Homo sapiens: one gene and its partners. The protein of the gene in region 2 purifies or fractionates together with the protein of the main gene of each other region. This does not show direct contact. Each region holds a gene or a part of one and is shown on either strand. Other genes may lie near its edges.

The links. Proteins that work in one complex are often made in the same cells at the same time.
Region 1: the proteins of UBXN11 (region 2) and VCPIP1 purify together in Homo sapiens (affinity purification with mass spectrometry, with the first as the bait; one study listed by BioGRID). This does not show direct contact.
Region 3: the proteins of UBXN11 (region 2) and COL1A1 purify together in Homo sapiens (affinity purification with mass spectrometry; 3 studies listed by BioGRID and IntAct, with this or other methods). This does not show direct contact.
Region 4: the proteins of UBXN11 (region 2) and ABI1 purify together in Homo sapiens (affinity purification with mass spectrometry; 3 studies listed by BioGRID and IntAct, with this or other methods). This does not show direct contact.

The regions. Positions count from the first base shown.
Region 1 is NC_000008.11:66,632,732-66,636,231, forward strand, and holds part of VCPIP1 (deubiquitinating protein VCPIP1), read right to left. Parts: intron 2,642-3,500; coding exon 1,770-2,641; 3' UTR 1-1,769. UniProt on the Homo sapiens protein: Deubiquitinating enzyme involved in DNA repair and reassembly of the Golgi apparatus and the endoplasmic reticulum following mitosis. Necessary for VCP-mediated reassembly of Golgi stacks after mitosis.
Region 2 is NC_000001.11:26,295,858-26,301,080, forward strand, and holds part of UBXN11 (UBX domain-containing protein 11), read right to left. Parts: intron 5,168-5,223; coding exon 5,069-5,167; intron 2,206-5,068; coding exon 2,105-2,205; intron 1,625-2,104; coding exon 1,570-1,624; intron 1,139-1,569; coding exon 1,062-1,138; intron 1-1,061. UniProt on the Homo sapiens protein: May be involved in the reorganization of actin cytoskeleton mediated by RND1, RND2 and RND3. Promotes RHOA activation mediated by GNA12 and GNA13.
Region 3 is NC_000017.11:50,195,132-50,198,631, reverse strand, and holds part of COL1A1 (collagen alpha-1(I) chain preproprotein), read left to right. Parts: intron 1-127; coding exon 128-199; intron 200-426; coding exon 427-471; intron 472-629; coding exon 630-683; intron 684-846; coding exon 847-900; intron 901-1,398; coding exon 1,399-1,452; intron 1,453-1,568; coding exon 1,569-1,622; intron 1,623-1,961; coding exon 1,962-2,015; intron 2,016-2,103; coding exon 2,104-2,148; intron 2,149-2,264; coding exon 2,265-2,318; intron 2,319-2,432; coding exon 2,433-2,477; intron 2,478-2,655; coding exon 2,656-2,709; intron 2,710-2,966; coding exon 2,967-3,065; intron 3,066-3,153; coding exon 3,154-3,198; intron 3,199-3,301; coding exon 3,302-3,400; intron 3,401-3,500. UniProt on the Homo sapiens protein: Type I collagen is a member of group I collagen (fibrillar forming collagen).
Region 4 is NC_000010.11:26,854,459-26,857,958, forward strand, and holds part of ABI1 (abl interactor 1), read right to left. Parts: intron 1-3,500. UniProt on the Homo sapiens protein: May act in negative regulation of cell growth and transformation by interacting with nonreceptor tyrosine kinases ABL1 and/or ABL2. May play a role in regulation of EGF-induced Erk pathway activation. Involved in cytoskeletal reorganization and EGFR signaling.

The sequences.
Region 1 (3,500 bases), on a different chromosome or scaffold from region 2:
AAGTGATATTTGTAATTCGTAGTTTAATACACAGAAGCCACCTTTACTAAGTAGTAAATAGTATTTGGTAGCTACAGCTCTTATTTTATGCAAAAATAGTGTACAATATAAAAGTTTAAAAATTTCCTGCTGTTTTGATAGGGAGAAAATTTAGGATGAAGATAAAATATAAAGACAAACGTGATAATGTGATAAAAACTAACCCAAATATATATTTTGCTCAGATACACCTGTAAAATGTCTAGATTCTCCATTCTTTCCTTATTTAAAATAGAGTAGTTTGTTTAAGAAGTGGATTCAGTTAGAGATACTTTCACAGAAAGATGACCAAAATCTGCCTTATCTGGAAACACAAGTTAAAGTACTGTCTATATCCCTTATGAATCAACAGGCAGAGATTTTTAAACATCTGATAAAATACTTTCTGACATACATTTTCTTAGAATTACAAACACAGTTCTGCATCTGTTACATGTGCAAACAGAGACAGCCAGGCTTTGAATGCTCTAGGTAAGAGATTGTATTAACATATATTTTGTCTTTCAGCCATTCAAATTCAACTTAATTTCAGTGAACAGAGAAGAATATGGGTTGAAATGTACACTTCAGGATACAGATTTGCAGAATAAAATAAAATAGTGCAATACCAATCTCAGGATAAACACTCTTCTGTTGTTTTTAAGGAATAAGCATGAAAGCTGCTTCTCAAGGAAACTGGCACTGAAGATTTGATGAATACACTAAGCAAATACCCAGCTGATCAGGGTGTGATGCAGTAAAATTTGCATCTAAACCCAAGTGAAGCCAACAAATAAACTCTTATGGATTCTGAAAAAAAAAAAAAAATTTTGGCTCAAAGGGGCATAAATACACTTAGCATATACAGGCTTAAATACCACTGATCAAAATTGTAGAACAATTAACTCATTCATAAAGATAAACTCTTATTTATAAATTCTCTACTGCTACCATTATTTCTTTTTCTACCACACTTTGCAATCAACTTTTCTGCAAGATTAAAAAAAAAAAAATCAGGTTGTTCTTGACCAAGCCAGGAATCAAAAATAATGGTAACATATTAATAGAGCACACACAATTGGCTGTGGCTCAGACAGCAACACAACTGAATCACATTGACCTCATCAATCTAGAAGAAATTTTTCCCCAATCTTGCACAAATCAGCAAAATGTTATATCGTTACATTCTATTCTCAAGATATTTTCGCCAAGAAATCTCTATGAATGTGTTTACGTTCATAGAAACATTTGCATTCCACTGTCTAATAAATAATTGTATGAATTTTAAGATACAATTTAGTTCAGATAAAATTCAAGTTTACATAAACCTTTTGACACTAGTATATGAGATGGTTACCTTGATGACATCAACATTAGCACAATCTCATTTCCCCTCCATTTGTAGGCTTTTCAGAAATCAAACGTATTTAAGTAAGAGAATTTTCATGTTGGAAACATTAAGACTTTCATGGAATTAAAATTACAAAGAACTTCCAATGAACCACATATATGGAAGAAAGTCATCTCAGCAGATCTAACAGCTAATTTATAGAAATTCAGAGCCAGCCTGGGCAGCAGTATATTAAAAGCTATGGCCAATCACACACTTGCTATCATGCACTGAATAACAAGATATAATCTTTGAATTATATACGTACAAGATTTTTAATGACTAATCAAGTTACGTGGCCCAGCCAACAAATATTACATATTCACAATAAACATTCTGCCTTTATTAGCCTCTAATTAAATCAAGAGTGATCCATTGGCTCAGTTGTGTTAGTCATCTCAGCATCTTGACTATCCATCTCTTCAAGCTCCTCCACGGAATTTCCCCTTTGTGCTTTTGACCTTGTGGCAAAGGCTGCTCCCAGTGCATCTGCTACACAGCCATCAGTTGTTTCTGTATTCAAATTTTCAGTACCACCAGTTAAAGGAAAAGATTCAGGCAAACCAGTCTGAAGACTCCCAGACTTTGCAGAAGAACTCACAACTTCTGTTTTCCTTTGAGGAAGATCAGATGGTGACTGCTCTGTACTTTGATCCCGAAGGTGCCTGTCCATTGAAGCCTGAATAGAAGAAACCATTTCCTGCAATTTTTTTCGCTGGGCCTCAACCAAATCAGGATCAAGCTGCCTGCCGTCTCTCATTGTTACTACTCCAGGAGCTATTCGAATAAGCTCACTATTACTAGAAGAAGCTGTGAATACAGAAGGCTCTGTTTTAGTGGAACTATTACTAAAGTCTGTCCCTGTATTATGCTTTCTTACAACTGAAGTTTCCCTAGCTCTTGGATCAAGGTGTGGGTTACCAGATGCAGTTCCTAAAGAATGCCCTTTTCCCTGAAAGGCAGTTACGTTATGAAGTTGCTCAGATTTCTTTTTCACTACTCCACCACTACCTAGTTTTAATAGCCCATGTGAGGGACTTGATTCCCTACTTCTTGTAGTAGCCTCTGCTCGAACCTGACTTACAGCCTCTTTAACTAAATCTTCAACATCAGGACCAATGGGGAAATGTCCTGCAGCATCCACACACAATTCCAGTCTATCTTCAGAAGCATTATAGACAAAGGTTTTGCCAGGCAGATGTGGAAAAGTACAATGCTTGCCATCAGCCATACCTAAAAAGGGGAAAAGATATTTAACATATTAAAATCTTAAGGTATTAATAAAAGTGTAGTCAAGACAATTATAGTTAAAATAATGAATTTTAAATAACAATTTACAGATAACAGCTTTCAAAACAAAATTCATTCAGATTTATTGTATTACAAAAAAGAACCACCGCCATAGACCCTAAAGTAGTTCTCCCCAGAGAATCTTTTTTAAAAAAATTTTTTTGCTATCTTAACTAACAGCAAAGTTAAGAATGGGGCTTGAGGTCACACAGTGGCTCACACATGTAAACCCAGCACTTTGGGAGGCTAAGGCAGGTGGATCACCTGAGGTCAGGAGCTCGAGACCAGCCTGGCCAACGTGGTGAAACCCCAACTCTACTGAGAATACACAAAATTAGCTGGGCATGGCAGCAGGCGCCTGTAATCCCAGCTACTTGGGAGGCTGAGGCAGGAGACTCACTTGAACCTGGGAGGCAGAGGTTGCAGTGAGCTGAGATTGCGGCACTGCACTCCAGCCTGGACAATAAGAGTGAAACTCTATCTCAAAAAAAAAAAAAAAAAAAAGAATGGAGCTTGAGGCCAGGTGCAGTGGCTCATGCATATAATCCCAGCACTTTGGGAGGCAGACAGGTGGATCACTTGAGGTCAGGAGTTCAAGACCAGCCTGGCCAAAATGTTGAAACCCAGTCTCTACTAAAAATACAAAAATTAGCTGGGCATGGTGGTGTGTGAGCCTGTAGTCCCAGCTACTGGGGAGGCTGAGGCAGGAGAATTGCTTGAACCCAGGAGGCGGAGGTTGCAGTGAGCCAAGATGGCGCCGCTATACCACTATACTCCAACCTGGGTGACAAAGCAAGACTCC
Region 2 (5,223 bases):
TCCTCCAGATGAGGCTGTTAAATGAATGAAGTGATAACTGTGTGGCGGAGACGCATGCAAGGGCAGTCATGCCCCTGCCCCGAGGCTCTGGTGCAGCCCTCACCGCCTGTGGCCACTGCTCGGGGACAACCCCAGGTATGAACAGCTTGGAGTGGGAAGGGCTCTCAGCTGCAATTGGAGGTTTGCTGCCAAGGTTTTAAATTAGATTGGGACTTTGGAAACCAATTCTGCGTGGAGAGGGAGAGAGGCTGAATCCCAGGAAGAACTTCTGGCAGGGCCCATGCGTGCCTGGGACCCTTCTCTGTGCCTGGTGTCCCTCTAGTTCCCTTGCTGTTTGAATGGGTCTGTGAGCGGGGGAAAGAAAGGTGACTGGGGTCACTGAGTCCCCAGTGAGCAGAAGTCACAGCCAGAGGCAGCAAATTGCTTAACCAATTCAGTGCTAGGTCCTGGGTGCACAGTGACATACAGGAGGAAACTGCTCCCTCCGTCGTGGAGTTCAGAGTCCCACAAGGGAAGAGAGATGAGGCACTGAGAAAGCTCGGGATGGAAAACCTGCCTAGGAGGCCCGGGGGATATGACTGAGGACAGTGGAACTGACCTGGGGGAGGTGGGGAAACATTTCAGCAGAGGGAACAGCAACAGCACGGCCCAAGGCCCTGAGGTGGGAAGCAGCTCCATGAGGTCAAAGACCCAGAGGAAGGGCCTCATGGCTGGAGGGGAGAGTGGTTCAAGCTAAGATGAAGAGGCATGCAGGGGCCAGCCCGCAGGGGCCACAGCGAGGACTGTAGAATTCAGTTCAGTGGGAGCCATGAGGTCTGCTAAGCAGGGGAGAGGCATGTTCAGAGGGCCCAAAAGCAGGGGTGTGCCCCAGCCCCAGACACCTCCCTGGCTCTTTAAAGTCTGGGCCAGTCCTGGGTAGGGAAATGCAGGGCAGGGTCCCTGGGTGGGATGTGACGAGGAGAGGCCCAGAGAGGTGGGCTCGGACCCAGCTCCTGAGGAACATGCCGTGAAGAGCTGGGGACTGCTGGCTGCCCGCATCCCCCGGGGCCCAGCTCTCTCACCTCCATCTCCCTGACCTGCCGCTGCAGCTGCACACACATCGTCTCCAGTTCCTCCTGCCGCTGCAGGGTTGCCTCGGCTTCAGGGAAAGACAGGGACAGGCTTCAGCTGCCCCAGCAAGACACTGCCAGGTCACCTCTGCCCTGAGGGTCATCTGGAGAAGCTGTTCTGGGGATCCCCCAAGAACTGCCTCTTGGCCCCCCACCTCTCTGGCCTCTCCTCTGACCCCGTGGCGGTGCCTTGATGGGCCCTAGGAGGCTGCCACTCCCCTCAGAGCCTCCTCTCCTCCACACTTCAGATGGGACTCGGTCCCATGTAGGAGGGCATGGAGTGACTCCAGCACTGTCCTGGATATGCTGCAGCCCCTCTGTGGGCTCAGCTGTCCAGACCCCACCAAGTAGTCAGCTTGATGCTCTTGATGCCAGAAGCCATTGTGAAGCTTCCAGGAGCCCTGGGCCCAGGGGAGGTGCCTGACTGGGGGCGCAGGTCAGCCCTCCAAGAGCCCCCTACCTGGGTGTGGCCGGAGGGTCTGCACCAGGTCCTCTAGGGCCGCTATCTTCTGATCCTGTAGCATAAGACACAGGGTGAGCACAGGGCCTGTGGTTCCCAGAGCCCTGCCCAGACAGGAAGCTCCAGAGCTTTGCCTATGTTGGATGCTGGGGAGCAGCAAGCCCCTGCCACCCTTTGGCACAGCCACTTCTCCCGGACCTCAGATAACCCTCGCAGTTCCTCTGAGGTAGGGAGAGGTGCGGCCCACACCTGAGGACCCCCACATCTGAGGGTGCCGCGCTCTGCTCAGCAGTCCACTGTGCCACCCAGTCCAGGGTCTACTGGGTCCTGCTCAGCTGAGGGGAAGACCCCCCAGCCTCTCGGCTCAGGTCACAGGACCTAGATCAGGCCCAGGCCACACCTGGTCCTCGAACTGGGCAGGTCAGTGTGGTAGACGGTTCTAGAATCACCCACCCTAGTCCAACTCCTGGCCTCCCCAGCCCAGTCCCTCCACCTCTCAGACCGGCCCCTGGCCCTCTCCCACCTGGAGCCCCACCTTGGACAGTATCTCATCAGTCTGGGCCTTCACCTGCTGCTCCAGGTCCCACAACTTCCTCGTCATGAAGGCCATCAGCTCCGAGTCATGGGATGCAGGGACTGCCAAGCACACAAAGTCTTTAGAGCCCAGACCTAGAGCCGAGGCTGAGTTGTGGGGGGGAGGGAGGAGGATAGGGGTCCCAGGAATGGAAATGAAGGTACTGAGAGCAGCTCCCACTGGCATCATAGGAACTGTTCTAAACACTTCATGTAGATCAACCCCCTGTAATCCTTGAAACACACCCAGGAGGTAAATGAACTGTTTTAGGAAACTGAGACACAAAGGGATCAAGTAATTTGTCCAACATATACAAGGAAGTGGTGTAACATATGGGTGACATCACCCTGAAGCATTGCCAAGAATTTCACCCTCGATCTAATCAAACCTCCAAATCTAGTGTCCAGTTGGTACGCAAAACAGCAGATAGAGGAGTGAGGCAAATACCCCACGGGCAAACTGCCAGACAAAGCCAGAATGCGGGGTGCTGTAGAAAACAGTAGCCAGGGCCGGGCATGCGGTGGCTCATGCCTGTAATCCCAGCACTTTGGGAGGCCAAGGCAGGTGGATCACTTGAGGCCAGGAGTCCAAAACCAGCCTGGCCAACATGGTGAAACCCTGCCTCTACTAAAAATACAAAAATCAGCCGGGCGTGGTGGCAGGTGCCTGTAATCCCAGCTACTCGAGAATCGCTTGAACCCAGGAGGCGGAGGTTGCAGTGAGCCAAGATCGCACCACTGCACTCCAGCCTGGGTAACAGAGTGAGGGACTCTGTCTCAGAAAAAAAAAAAAAAAAAAAAAAGTATGAAAATGGAAAAGAAGAGAAACCTACAGGAAGAAGCAGGCCTTTTCCTTTTCTTCCCCTAGACAGTGTCCTTTCTATGTATGAAGCAGGAACCGCGGCCATCATCCTACAACCACATGAGGCTGACATGTCAAGGCAGGTTCAGTGGAAAGATGGAGAAACCTGAGCCCCTGATGATGTCTTGGAGTCACTGAATTAACACCCCTGGAGCTGCCTCTTTAGGATTTCTTTGCATGTGGGATAACAAAACTTCCTTAATGTTCTTGTTGGCTGAGGAAGGGTTTTCTTTGACTTATAGTTAAATGCATCTTAATTGACAAACATTTGGGAACTGTCTACACATGGAGTGCAGGTGAGCTCACTGGGGCACAGTGGACACAGAGGAGAATCCAGGCCAGAGGAACATCACATTGAAAAGCTGAGGGCCTGGGTGCAGTGGCTCGCACCTGTAATCCCAGCACTTTGGGAGGCCGAGGCGGGCAGATCACTTGAGACCAGGAGTTCGAGACCAGCCTGAGCAACATAGAGAAACCCTGTCTCTACTAAAAATACAAAAATTAGCCAGGCATGGTGGTGTGTGTCTGTAGTCCCAGCTACTTGAGAGGCTGAAGTGGGAGGACTGCTTGAGCCTGACAGGTCGAGGCTGCAGTAAGTAGTGATTTGCACCGCTGCACTCCAGGCTGGGCAACAGAGCAAGGCAGTCTCCAAAAAAAAAAAAAACAAAAAAAAAACCTGAGAGAAAAAAGGAGGTGGTGATGACAGCTAAGAGACAGAGCCTAGAAGCAGAGGGTAATGGGAGGGCAGCAGCTTGGTGCCTAAGAGCTTGGTGGAGGTCCTGAGAAGGAAGGAGCAGTGGACAGTATAGGACACTGCTGGCAGAGAAGTAAAATAAGATAGGCAAGTCCTCATCTGTTACCTTGGTAGGGACAGATATTGGCTGGGAGTGGGAGAGGAGGGGATGACAGGGGAAAGCAGGGAGAGGACACCTGGAGCTCTTTCAAAGAGAGAACCTGGTTGCCATGGTTACTACTGAAAGTGACCTGGCTGGGTATGGTGGCTCATGCCTGTAATCCCAGCACTTTGGGAGGCTGAGGCAGGAGGACTGATTGTGCCTGGGAGGCTGAGGTTGCAGTGAGCCATGATCGCACCACTGCACTCCAGCCTGGATGACAGAGCAAAACCCTGTCTCAAAAAAAATAAAATAAAAAAGAAAGTTGACCCCAGCCAGGGTATAGGAGATCTTGGCTTTGTGGTGAAATGGCCGCAGAACCTTAGGCCAGGCTCTTCCTGTCTCTTTTTCCACCTCAATTCCCTCCTCCGGTAAAATGGAAGGGGCCTGAGGGAGAATCATCAGGCCCTTCCCTATGGCTGGCCTCCTGATGGGCAGCCACCACACTGAGCACCTCGCGTGACAGGCGCTGGCCAGGGGCCCTCCACCGAGGAGCATCTCATTGAATCCTCCCAACACGCTGCCCTCGCTGTTCCCATGCCCACTTCACAGAGGAGGCCTCAGAGACAGAGAGATGCGAAGTTGCTTGCTCAAGATACCACAGCTAGTGAGCTAGTGGAAAGTTCTAACCTTATCCCCAGCATCCCCAGATCCCGCCCAGCACTCTGCAGGGCTCATCCCTGCCTGCCCATGTCTCCCCTTTTCTCAGACCTGCTAAATCCCCACTCTGGGAAGCCACCCTGATTAGCCCCATCCCACTTTAGGTGCCTCCATGAGCTCAGCATTGCCACAGCCCTCTGCCAAGCTAAGCAGACTGTCTAGGCGACTTTGGGCCTTGCCAGAGCCCTGCAGAAGCAGGAAGCTGAGCTCTACCCTCAGACTTCATCCCTCTCTGACCCTGAATCCTGAGCCCACTGATATCACACCTGGTAACTATAGCCACAGCCTGGCCTGGGGCTGGGGCTGGGGCTGGGCCTCGGCCTCCTGAGCTAAGGGTGGGGCTTGTGTGGCTTTATGCCAAGCCAGGTCCCTGCCACAATCAGCCAGGAGTGGAAGCAGCTGCCTCAGACCAAACAGGCGAGAGGAAGGGCCATGCCTCCCTAGGCCTTGCCCCGTCTCTGGGGCCCCCTCCTGCAGCCAGGACCCAGACCCTTCAGGCCTCTGCTCTCACCTTGCCGACTCACAGGGGCACCTATGCCGCCATAGCAGGAAGGGACTGAGATCTTTTCTTCTGAGCCACACCCATCACTCAACATGTCCACCTCATCTTCTGCAGACAGGGATGCCTAGGTCACCGCTCTGGGGCGGAGACCCAGAGGAAACTCA
Region 3 (3,500 bases), on a different chromosome or scaffold from region 2:
AAAAGCAATGTTATTCTTCTCAGCACATCACACCAGGAAGTGCATGATGTCAGTTTCTTCCATCCTCAGTGCCGTCTTCTGCCTTTCAATTCACTGTCCTCACTCTGACTTCTCTTGTTTGTTCTAGAACTTTGCTCCCCAGCTGTCTTATGGCTATGATGAGAAATCAACCGGAGGAATTTCCGTGCCTGGCCCCATGGTGAGCCAGCAGGGGGAGCATGGATGACAGAAGAGAGAATGGGTATCCAGAGGAGGTGGGCATAGGCGGCTGGTATAGACAGCTTGGGAGGTCCAGATCACCTTTGGGACCTCAGAGTCCAGAAAGGATGCAGGACGACTGGGTGGTCCCAACAGGCATGAATGACTACATCCACATGCTTTCCTACAGAGGGATCACCATGACCCCCCTTTCTTCTCCCTCTATAGGGTCCCTCTGGTCCTCGTGGTCTCCCTGGCCCCCCTGGTGCACCTGTGAGTATCCAGGACGTCTTCATATGCCTCCTTGGGCTTTGGTCTTTTGGAGGGAAGACTGGGATGAGGGCAGGAGAGATGCTCAGAGATCTCTTGGTAAGATTGGAGAAGGTTGACAGGGACTTGTCTTCTAACCCATCTTTTTCCTTCTTCTCAAGGGTCCCCAAGGCTTCCAAGGTCCCCCTGGTGAGCCTGGCGAGCCTGGAGCTTCAGTAAGCACTCTCTATACAGATTCATACTCCTTCTACAAACACACAGACTCTCCTATAGAAGAACTCCCAGGCCTGGGGTCTTCCTTACCTCTTCCCTTCAATCCCAGCCTTCCCCTTCTTTTTTTCTTATCCATATTCTAACCACCTCTTCTATCTTTTCTAGGGTCCCATGGGTCCCCGAGGTCCCCCAGGTCCCCCTGGAAAGAATGGAGATGATGTAAGTATCCCCAGCAAGAAGATACCATCTGACCCCATGGCCTCCATGGGTTGGGTCCTGCAATTTCCACTCCACCACATTTGGGAACGATACTCAGAGGAAGGAGGGCAAGTCCTCTCTGATGCACGGACTGCCCTGGAACAATGATCTTTTCGCTTAGTGAGATGATTCCATGTCCCCAACAAAGTGACTGTTCTCCTCACCCCAGCCACCTTAGAGCAATCCCCAACCCCATCCCTTTGGGGAAATTGGTGCGCAGATGGTGAAATTAAAATGCTGGTGACAGAAGTAGACAGAAATTCCTTTAGAGGCACTCAGATTTCACCAAACGAAGGTTTCACTGTAGATTTAAACTGAGCTCTAGATTCAAAGATAAGATTCTGGGCCCCCAAACCTGACCTGCAACAATCCAAAGAAGACTGAGACCTTCTCCACTTTTCCAGCCCCTAGGCGGTGGTGGGGAGGCAGAGGCATGATGGTCTTTTCTCTCCCTCTCAGGGGGAAGCTGGAAAACCTGGTCGTCCTGGTGAGCGTGGGCCTCCTGGGCCTCAGGTGAGCAGGGGGCTGTGGCTGAACCTGGGCTTCACTGCACTTGGGCTTCATTTAGGAGCTGGGTCCACAGTGATGTGTTCTAATGGCCCTTCCTTGTCTTCTTCATCTCTCTCCAGGGTGCTCGAGGATTGCCCGGAACAGCTGGCCTCCCTGGAATGAAGGGACACAGAGTGAGTCACCTTTGAGTCATTTAAGCTCCCCAAGTCCCTAGCATACCCCCATCCAGTCCCAACCTCTTCCCCAAAAGATACTGAGTTGCATCATGGTGGGTGGCAGCTACAGAAGTCCCAAGGGACAGAGAGTGGACATCCAAAAGCACCTCCCTCCATGGGAAAGCAGTCCCGATTAAACGATTGGGTGAGATCTAGAGCCAGTTGGGGTTTAGTCTAGCTCAGAAACAAAGGGATGGCGGTGATGACCTCCCAAGGCTCTTTCTCAGATCTAGGTGGATGTCAAGGCTGTTCCACCCCCTCCACAGGTTCTTACCTTCTACCTCTTTCCTGCTTTAGGGTTTCAGTGGTTTGGATGGTGCCAAGGGAGATGCTGGTCCTGCTGGTCCTAAGGTAAGAGGCTGTCTGAACATCATGGTCCTCCACATCCCCAGAGTCCCACCATGAATGAATTTCTCACTCATTATTCTCTGATCTACAGGGTGAGCCTGGCAGCCCTGGTGAAAATGGAGCTCCTGGTCAGATGGTGAGTGTGCCCAGTTCCAGAGGGCAGGGATGGGGCAGGAGGCAGGGGCAAGATGGAGGCCTGGGGGAACAAGGCTGTCTCCCATCTCATCTGACTTCTCTTGGTTTGGTTGTCAGGGCCCCCGTGGCCTGCCTGGTGAGAGAGGTCGCCCTGGAGCCCCTGGCCCTGCTGTAAGTACTCCTGGCCCCTTGGGGGATCCCTGAGCTCTGGAAGGGGCTCCCCAGGAACTCTAGGGACTGGCCAGTGCTCAGTGGACTTAACGGGGCTTCCCCTCTCTCCTGCAGGGTGCTCGTGGAAATGATGGTGCTACTGGTGCTGCCGGGCCCCCTGTGAGTGTGGCCTGTAGGCCTCAGGGCCTGGGAGTGGGGAGGGGTCTCAGTATCTGCTCTTGGGGCTGACAATGGGAGCAGGTTATGTTGGTCTGAACCCCAGGACTTCCTCTGTCCCAGGGTGTGACTTGCAGCTGCCATCTCTTCCTTCTCGCTGACATCTCCATTTCATTCACAGGGTCCCACCGGCCCCGCTGGTCCTCCTGGCTTCCCTGGTGCTGTTGGTGCTAAGGTGAGACCCCCCACTCTCCTCTAAGCATGACCCTCATGGGCCAAGGGGTTCATGTCTCCCTGTTCCCCAAACCAAAGGGACCCAGAGTGGCAAGAGAGCAGCCCGTTCACTAACACCTTTGTCCTGGGTTCTCCGTCTCTGATCTTAGAGTCCTGATCATTGCTCTCCTGTCCCTGTCTCCCCTTCCTCCTGCCATCCCGAGAGGCAAGGTTGGGTTTCCCAGGGTGGCTTCTGATATGTCCTTTCTTCTGATTCAGGGTGAAGCTGGTCCCCAAGGGCCCCGAGGCTCTGAAGGTCCCCAGGGTGTGCGTGGTGAGCCTGGCCCCCCTGGCCCTGCTGGTGCTGCTGGCCCTGCTGTAAGTGTCCCCGACTCAGTGTCCCCTTTGCCACTTTCTAACCTCAGAGTCCTTGCCTGTTGCTGACACTCCTTTCTCTGTGCCACAGGGAAACCCTGGTGCTGATGGACAGCCTGGTGCTAAAGGTGCCAATGTAAGTATCCTGCCAGGCTTCAGTCCCACTCCTGCCGCCTGCAGCCTGCCTGCCCCTTTCCCTCTGCTCCTAGGCTCACGCCCTGGCTGTCTGCCTCCCACAGGGTGCTCCTGGTATTGCTGGTGCTCCTGGCTTCCCTGGTGCCCGAGGCCCCTCTGGACCCCAGGGCCCCGGCGGCCCTCCTGGTCCCAAGGGTAACAGCGTGAGTACCAAACTCTCCCTTCTGCCCACCCCATGCACTGGCTCCAGTGCGGCTCTCATCTGGGGAGCAGGAAGACGCAGGCCAACTGAGCGCCCCCGAC
Region 4 (3,500 bases), on a different chromosome or scaffold from region 2:
AAAAAGGAAAGAAAAGAAAAAAAAAGAACTGATATGCTAGGTCAGATCCTGCTCTACCCAGCCCTGTATCACCTTGACACAACAGCATGAATAAACATGTAATGACATGGTATGGGTCGATTTAACAATTAACTGAGGATCTTCCATAAAATTATCTAACCTTCTGTTAAATACATTTACATTTCCAACCTACATCTCTAACTTTGCTAGTCACTGTTTTACTCACACTTCAAAGTGCAATTCTAGGAATTCTAACCATTCCAGTCTATCCTCATCTCCTGAATCACTTTGACTGTTTTTCCCCAAACCTGGTTTGTATAGAAATCACATCTACCCAGAATATTTCCACATATTTTTTGTTAATCTCTACAAATGCTTCTTCAAAATTTCTTAGCACAATTGCAACACAGACTAACAATAGAAAAAAGACAGGCAAGGATGCAGGAAAAGAAAAAAGGATCCAGGGAGCTCAGTGAAAAGCTAGGCTGTAATTCCTATACAGGTTCAGTATCCCTAATCTGGAAATCCAAAACCCAAAACTTCTTGAGCATCAACATGACACAAAAATAAATGCTCATTAGACTATTCTGGATTTCAGATTTTCAGATTAGGGAGGCTCAACCAGTAAGTATATAATGCAAACATTCCAAAATTCAAAAAAAAATCTGAAACATTTCTGGTCCCAAGCATTTTGAATAAAGGATACTTAACCTGTAGTTGAACACTTCAAATGCCAAAGTTACCATCTTTTGGTGATATAGGCAAGTCCCTAAATTACAAACATATCTCTTCTTATATTCACAACCTGGAAACAATGGTAAAGAGTTGTTAGGTTCCCAGGCTTGCCCAATACCAGTCTATTCTGTTTATTCCACGGTATTCCTGAACCAGTTTTGAGTTCTAGATTCTTTCATGTGAAAACAGTATGATATGAAAAGAGCACAGCCTATGGAGTCTGCCAGAGTCAGAAGGAAGTCCTGACTGCCAATTACTAACTCTATGACTAAACAAAACTTAACTTTTATGAGTCCTAATTTCCTCATATGTAAGACAGCACTGTCTGTCGTGGCGAGTTTGTAAGGATTAAAGATAATACAAAACCAACCAGCAGAGACTGCAATGGAGTACGTATTCAATAAATAGAGGCAATTATATTACCCTCTACCCTTCTCTATTACCCTCTGCGCACATTGTTTTTATCCCCTATGTTGCCATAAGAACCCTGTTTAGGGCCGGGTGCGGTGGCTCACACCTGTAATCCCAGCACTTTGGGAGGCCAAGGCGGGTGGATCACCCGAGGTCAGGAGTTTGAGACCAGCCTGGCCAATATGGTGAAACTCCGTCTCTACTAAAAATACAAAAATTAGCCAGGCATGGTGGTGGGCACCTGTAATCTCAACTACTCGGGAGGCTGGGGTAGGAAAATCACTTGAACCCAGGAGGCGGAGATTGCAGTGAGCTGAGATCGTGCCACCGCACTCCAGCCTGGGTGACAGAGCAAGACTCCATCTCAAAAAAAAAAAAAAAAAAAAAGAACCCCATTCTGGGCTGGGCATGGTGGCTCACACCTGTAATCCCAACTCCATGGGAGACTGAGGACAGTGGATCACCTGAGGCCAGAGTTCGAGATCAGCCTGGCCAACATGGTGAGACCCTGTCTCTACTAAAAATGCAAAAATTAGCTGGGTGCAGTGGCATGCACCTGTATTCCCAGCTACTCAGGAGGCTGAGGCAGGAGAATTGCTTGGAGGTTGCAGCGAGCTGAGATCATGCCACTGCACTCCAGCCTGGGTGACAGAGTAAGGCTCTGTCTAAAGAAAAAAAAAAAAAAACCCATTCAGGATTAATTAGATGGAATTTGGGATTTGGAATCGAGAAAATCTGGGTTTGATTCCAGGCCCCACCTCATACAAGCTACTGAACTTTAGGTTGGGTATTTAATACCTCGGAACCTCTAACTGTCCATCTGTTACTCAAAAAAAAAAAAAAAAAAAAAAAAAAAAACTGACACAGTTTGTAAACTGGCATAAAGTGTACAGTATCAGAAATGTTAGCTTTTACCTACTCCAAACGGATCCTGCTCAAAAATTACCCACCTTCTGAGATTAAATGTGCTAATGAAGCAAATGTCACAGGAGGAGGAAAGCAAGCTGAAGTGAGTAGCTCACAGTAACATACTGGGATGATATCCCCTTCATACTCCTAGGCTTTAGAACATACTTGTTAACCCAAATAAAGCTCCTGGTAGAAATCCAGACAAAAAATAAAATTAAATTTTAAAGTTAAGCTGTATGAAGACTTTTCTGTCCTTACCCCCAACCTACCAATCTGCATCCTGACAAACCTTCTTAAGCAGTTTCTACTCCTTTTCACTCGGCTTTCCTTCCTATTTCCCAGAATAGTTCCCATAACAAAGGCAGTATGAACTAACTCTAAGGTAGAGCACAGAGAACTGGCTAAACATGTGTGTTCAAATTAAGCACTGTCCTTGGCATGAAAAATTCAATCTGGTCATAGTAAAGGAATATGGAAAAGTCTCTTCTGTATGTCTACATAAATGACTATATAAAAACACTTTCAGCCAGGCATGGTGGCTCACACCTATAATCCCAACACTTTGGGAGGCCGAGGAGGGCAGATCACCTAAGGTCAGGAGTTCGAGACCAGCCTGGCCAACATGATGAAACCCTGCCTCTGCTAAAAACACAAAAAATTAGCCAAGCGTGGTGGTGGGCACCTATAATCCCAGCTACTTGAGAGGCTGAGGCAGGAGAATCGCTTGAACCCAGGAGGTGGAGGTTGCAGTGAGCCAAGATCGCACCATTGCACTCCAGCCCAGGCAATAGAGCGAGACTCCATCTCAAAAAAAAAAAAAAAAAAAAAAAAAAAAAACACTTTCTGGCAAGGTGCAGTGGCCTATGTCTGTAATACTGGCACACTGGGAGGCCAAGGCAGGCAGACTGCTTGAGACCAGGAGTTTGAGACCAGCCTAGGCAACATGGCAAAACCCCATCTCTACAAAACAAATACAGAAATTAGCTGGGAGTGGTGGTGCGCACCTGTAGTCCCAGCTACCTGGGGGGGCTGAGGTGGGAGGATCTCCAGAGCCCAGGAGGTTGAGGCTGCAGTAAGCCATGATGGCATCACTGCACTCCAGCCTGAGCAACAGAGCAAGACTGTGTCTCAAAAAAAAAAAAAAAAAAACTTTCTATTTTTAGTATTATTTACCCCATGGCAACTGTTAAAACCCTGTCCTTGCATATACCTGTGGTCTCAGCTACATGGGAGGCTGAGGTGGGAGGACTGCTTGAGCCCAGGAGGTCAAGGCTGCAGTGAATGGTGTTCACACACCACTGCACTCCAGCCTGGGTGACAGAGCAAGTCTGTCTCAAAAAAAAAAAAAAAAAGAAAGAAAAAAACTGTCCTTTTTAATGTAGTAGAATCTTTTCAGATGTTTTGCTATTAATAATACAACCTACTAGTTAAAAGTCAACAGAACC